2 separate regions of the Homo sapiens genome follow, and region 2 is linked to region 1. A link means that fine-mapping ties the variant in region 1 to the expression of a gene that starts in the linked region. Tissue or cell type: lung. Region 1 holds a variant in brackets; the other region holds the start of a gene. All regions are shown on one strand. Distances are between the middles of the regions.

The links. PIP is the estimated chance that this variant, and not a neighbour inherited with it, causes the effect.
Region 2: RECK starts here. The variant in region 1 is fine-mapped to the expression of RECK in lung (TOPMed, PIP above 0.99).

The regions. Positions count from the first base shown.
Region 1 is chr9:36,057,555-36,060,054 of GRCh38, reverse strand. It overlaps RECK (reversion inducing cysteine rich protein with kazal motifs), which reads right to left. Exons shown (of 21, transcript NM_021111.3): 3 at 1,154-1,228. Among named protein-coding and RNA genes, the nearest start is that of RECK, 22 kb to the right of the region's middle. The variant A/C (reference allele first, on the strand shown) is at 1,236.
Region 2 is chr9:36,035,226-36,038,251 of GRCh38, reverse strand. RECK (reversion inducing cysteine rich protein with kazal motifs) reads right to left here and starts at 1,339. Exons shown (of 21, transcript NM_021111.3): 1 at 1,154-1,339. The coding sequence starts at 1,253. RefSeq lists silencers at 1,060-1,209, 1,220-1,419.

The DNA.
Region 1 (2,500 bases):
TCTACAGAAATTATGAACAGCTAATTTGATTATGGCTATGTCTACACAGTCAATGTTCTAGAACTACAGGCACATCAATCAGCTATTCGGGGGGAACAAAGCTGAGATACAGAAATATTCCTTGTTCTTTTCCCATCTGAGAGCATTAACGATGAGTCTAGTTACTCAGGATACTTACTGGAATCACTGTTTCCAAGCCTATAGACAAAACTGAAGACTAAAGGGAATGTGTCAGTCAGAACTATTTAATCATCAACTTATTTTCCCCTTCACATAATATAAGCCACCATATCTAAAGAGGCTCTTGCAAACAAACTCACACTTTCTTGGTCTGGCACATGAGCATCCCAAACACTGAGGACAGCCCAAGTATTAGAGACCTTTAAAAGGTCTTAAAGTTACATGATTCAGATAGGTAAGCAATATATCTACAGTATGTCAGAAAATTGGAAGATAATAAGTCATATATTTTCCCTTATCCCAAATTCAATTTTCCAAAATCAAAATAAACAGATTTAGTTATTATAGTTTTCATAAAATTAGTCAAACTATAATAATAAATAAAATTCTAAGTTCCAGATAATTTTTTTTTTTTTTTTGAGACGGAGTCTTACTCTGCTGCCCAGACTGGAGTGCAGTGATGCTATCTCAGCTCACTGCAACCTCCGCCTCCTGGGTTCAAGCAATTCTCCTGCCTCAGCCTCTGGAGTAGCTGGGACTACAGGCGTGTGCCACCATGTCTGGCTAATTTTTGTATTTTTAGTAGAGACGGGTTTCACTATGCTGGCCAGGCTGGTCTCGAAATCCTGACCTCAGGTAATCCACCCGCCTCAGACTCCCAAAGTGCTGGGATTACAGGCATCAGCCACCACGCCCGACCCCAGATAAAATACTATAATGAAATTTAAAGATAGGAACACATTTATATTTAAGATTGTTTTTAGATTTATATCATAGGATAATAAAAGAAGAAAAACAATATTCTATCTAGCAATTTATATGAAGATTTTTTTTAAGTATTTAAGTTAAACTTAACATTTTATTTTGACCACAAATTCCAATCACATTTAAAAATTTGCTAACTCTGAAAGTAATTCATTGGATAGTTTCATTTAGACAGAAGCTTCTACAGTTAAGTTACAATAAGACTTACCATTGTCTCTGGGCAATAATCTGGGGCTCGCTGCAACAGATGTTTTAGTCGGGATTCACTTTTTGAGGAGAAAATCTATTTG[A/C]CAAAAAAAAAAAAGTTTTTGTGGCATTTTTCTATAAGAAATAAGAAGAGGTAAAACTTATTATCCTCTAGATTTATCAGTTGTCTAGAATATTTTCCAACTTCCTTTTTATTTTATTTATTTATTTTTAAATTTTTATTTATTTATTTATTTATTTATTAATTATTATTATACTTTAAGTTTTAGGGTACATGTGCACAATGTGCAGGTTAGTTACATATGTATACATGTGCCATGCTGGTGCGCTGCACCCACTAACTCGTCATCTAGCATTAGGTATATCTCCCAGTGCTATCCCTCCCCCCTCCCCCCACCCCACAACAGTCCCCAGAGTGTGATGTTCCCCTTCCTGTGTCCATGTGTTCTCATTGTTCAATTCCCACCTATGAGTGAGAATATGCGGTGTTTGGTTTTTTGTTCTTGCGATAGTTTACTGAGAATGATGATTTCCAATTTCATCCATGTCCCTACAAAGGACATGAACTCATCATTTTTTATGGCTGCATAGTATTCCATGGTGTATATGTGCCACATTTTCTTAATCCAGTCTGTCATTGTTGGACATCTGGGTTGGTTCCAAGTCTTTGCTATTGTGAATAATGCCGCAAAAAACATAGTGTGCATGTATCTTTATAGCAGCATGATTTATAGTCCTTTGGGTATATACCCAGTAATGGGATGGCTGGGTCAAATGGTATTTCTAGTTCTAGATCCCTGAGGAATCGCCACACTGACTTCCACAATGGTTGAACTAGTTTACAGTCCCACCAACAGTGTAAAAGTGTTCCTATTTCTCCACATCCTCTCCAGCACCTGTTGTTTCCTGACTTTTTAATGATTGCCATTCTAACTGGTGTGAAATGGTATCTCATTGTGGTTTTGATTTGCATTTCTCTGATGGCCAGTGATGGTGAGCATTTTTTCATGTGTTTTTTGGCTGCATAAATGTCTTCTTTTGAGAAGTGTCTGTTCATGTTCTTTTATTTTATTTATTTTTTTAAGACAGAGTCCCATTCTATCACCCAGGCTGGGGTGTAGTGGTGTGATCTCAGCTCACTGTAACCTCCACTTCCCAGGCTGAAGCAATTCTCCAGCCTCAGCATCCCAAGTAGCTGGGACCTTGGGCATGAGCCACAAATGCCAGGCTAATTTCTGTATTTTTTTGTAGAGACAGGGTTTCACCATGTTGCCATGGCTGGTCTTGAACTCCTAAGCTCAAAGCGATCCGCCCGCCTCAGCCTCCCAAAGTGCTGGGACCACACGCA
Region 2 (3,026 bases), 22 kb after region 1:
GCCTCAACTTCCCGGGGCTCGAGCAATCCTCGTATCTCAGCCTCGCGGGTAGCTGGAACAACAGGCATACACCACCATGCCCGGCTAATTTTTGTATTTTTAGTAGAAACGGGGTTTCACTATGTTAAGCAGGATGGCCTCGAACTCCTGGGCTCAAGGGATCCGCCCGCCTCCACCTCCCAAAGTGCTGGGATTACAGGGGAGAGCCTACCGCACCCGGCTGACTTTGCTTTTTTTTTTTTTTTTTTTAAGGTGTCTCTGCCTGTCTCCCTGTAAGCAATGCACTTCACCACTTTTGCATGCACACGTCCTAGCCATCTTTCAATGTCTAGTACAGCTAGGGGGAATCACTCCACTTTCCACTCATCCTAGGTCGATGTCCTCTCTCCCTCTGTGCACTCATACATGGCCCTTCATTTCCTCTGGACATTTCTGCCTTGAATTCGAGTTACTTCAATCTCCTGCTGTACCCCATCTCCTACCGAGAGAGCTTTTGGACGGAAGGAGTCGGCGTGCACTCAAAAGGCCAGCAAGCGGGAAGCAATCAATAAGCACTTAACAGTTTCCTATCCATCCTTGGTTTAGTTCTTGTAGAGCAAGAATTTCTCTCCTCAAGCCTGCCAGCCCCCGGGGGACAGGGTTTACTGATTTTTAATGTCTCCTGCCCGAGTCCAGGACCCACCACGCGGGCTGTGGGGACCGTCAGTGCTCACCGCCACCAAGGTCGTTATGAACCAAGTGCGGGTCAAGTAACAAGTAACAATAACTAACTAGGGCCGCGGTAGGGCGGCTGCGTATCCGAAATCCCATCTAAACCTCGCGACGATCCTGGGCGGGGGCATCGCACCCTTTTCTGACAAGCAGCAGAGGCAAGCGAAGGGGTCAGTGCCGAAGAGGGGGCCCGTGTCGGTGGGTGACAGACCAAGGCCTCAAACCCGAGTCACCGCCCAGAAGATCTTGGGGCGGAGAGAGTTCCTCACTCGCCCCGCCTCGGCACCAGCCTCTGGAGCGCTGAGACCTGGGGTCCCGGGGTCGCCGGACGTGGGCAGGGTCTGGGGGTCGCGCGCACCCCCGCCCCCTGCCCCGCGCCATCTTGGAGCGCTGTGGCGGCCGCTCCCGACAGCTTCGAACCGTTGCTCTGGAGGTTACTCACCCGCACTGCCCGGAGCCAGGCCCCCTGCCACCTCCGCGACCCCCGCCACGGCCAGCAGAAGGAGCAGCGCACCTCGCAGAGAGGCCCGGACGGTCGCCATGTCCGGGCCGGGCGGCTCCAGAGCCGCGGGATGCTCGGACCCAGCTTGGCCGCAGCCGCTGCCGCCGCTACCGCCGCCGCTCGCGCGAGGCCCCGCCCCCAGCGCCCGGCCCTTTGGTGACTGGCTGCGGCCCGCTCAAGCCCCGCCCCCTGCCTCACAGTGTTTCCAAAACCTCCCGGGGGCGGGAACGTGCCCCGTACCAGGGCTCTTTGTTATGGCCCAACTGTGTGTCGGCTTCTGCCAGGAGTCCACCAGCCCACGTTCTCCCAGAGTGAAGTCAGAGGATGTCAGAGCTGGGAGAGTCATTAGAAAACCTCTGCCACCTCCTGAGGTTTCGGGCCACTGAGGTGAGAGAGGAGACTGACCTTACTCAAGATCACACTGCAAGTTCACCTGAGAACAAGGGCTTAGTCCAAGGCCGAACCAAAGGGGCTTCTCTCCTTCATGTACCCTCAGTAATACTCGCAATATTCTTTCTGCCGAGACGCTGCCTCGCACCCAAAGAAAGCATGTCACCCGGGATCCTTCGGCCTCCCGCAGACACGGCCCCCTGACAAGGGTTCATCACTAGAGCTCTTTGGCACTATAGCCTCAATGTGTCTTTGTTGTACTTTAAAAATTATTTATTTATTTATTTAGGCAAGAGTCGCTCTGTCGCCCAAGCTGGGGTGCAGTGGCGCGATCTCGGCTCACTGCAACCTCCGCCTCCCGGGCTCAAGCGATCCTCCCACCTCAGCCTCCTGAATAGCTGGGACCACGGGCGCAGGTGACCACGCCTGGCTAATTTTTATATTTTTTTTGCAGAGAAGGGGTTTCACCATATTTCTCAAGCTGGTCTCGAACTCCTCGCCTCAAGCAATCCCCCAGCCTCCTCCTCCCAAAGTACGGGGATTGCAGGCGTGAGCCACTGTGCCTGGCCTTGATGTTACTATTAAGCACCTATTCCTGATAGGAAAAGAGGATAGGAGAACGCTTGTATACCTAGATGTGGAAAGCCTTGAATATCCGGCTGAGAAGTATAGACTTTGTCCAAGAGACAAGTTGGAAGTGGGTCCCACCCCACCCATCAGCCCAGCAGCTACGTGGAGAATGTTTAAGCCACTGGCTAGCAAAGCTAATTCATTGTCTCTTTTTTTCTCTGTGTGTTCCTGAATTAAACCCTTTTTCCTCCTTTTTTGAAAAAGCATGACCACCGTTTTAAATTCTCATGAAGACACCTGGGGCTAAATTACTTAAAACATTTTTAAAATTCCTTAATATTATTAAATATCCAGTCATTATTTACATTTTTCTTATTGTCTCATGATTTCTTTTTACAATTTTTCAAGTTCTAAACAAAATCCATATATTAAAGTTGGTTTTTATGTTTTTGGGCTCTTACATTTATCCTCTCTTTCGAGTTTACAAAAGGAAAACATGAATAAGTTAAAATATCTAAAACATCTCCTCTGATGACTCTGTTGCTTCTGTGTACAAGGTAAACTGAGGCACAATAAAATTTTAAAGTTTACTTCAGCACGCGGTGATTCATGAATTGAGAAGCTGCAAACCAGAAGTGGTTCTGGGGCTCAGCTCTGTCGAAGAAGCAGATTTTTACAGAGTGAATGGGAAAGTAATAAAAAGAAAATATTTGATTGGTTACAGTTATAAAGTTGCCTTATTTGGTCTATCCCACTAAAAAGCCTCTAGTTATACAAGTTTGTGGACTACTTCTGATTGGTTGAGCTTGTTCTGTTTTTCTTTAATATATGCATTTACAAGAAATAGCTCAGA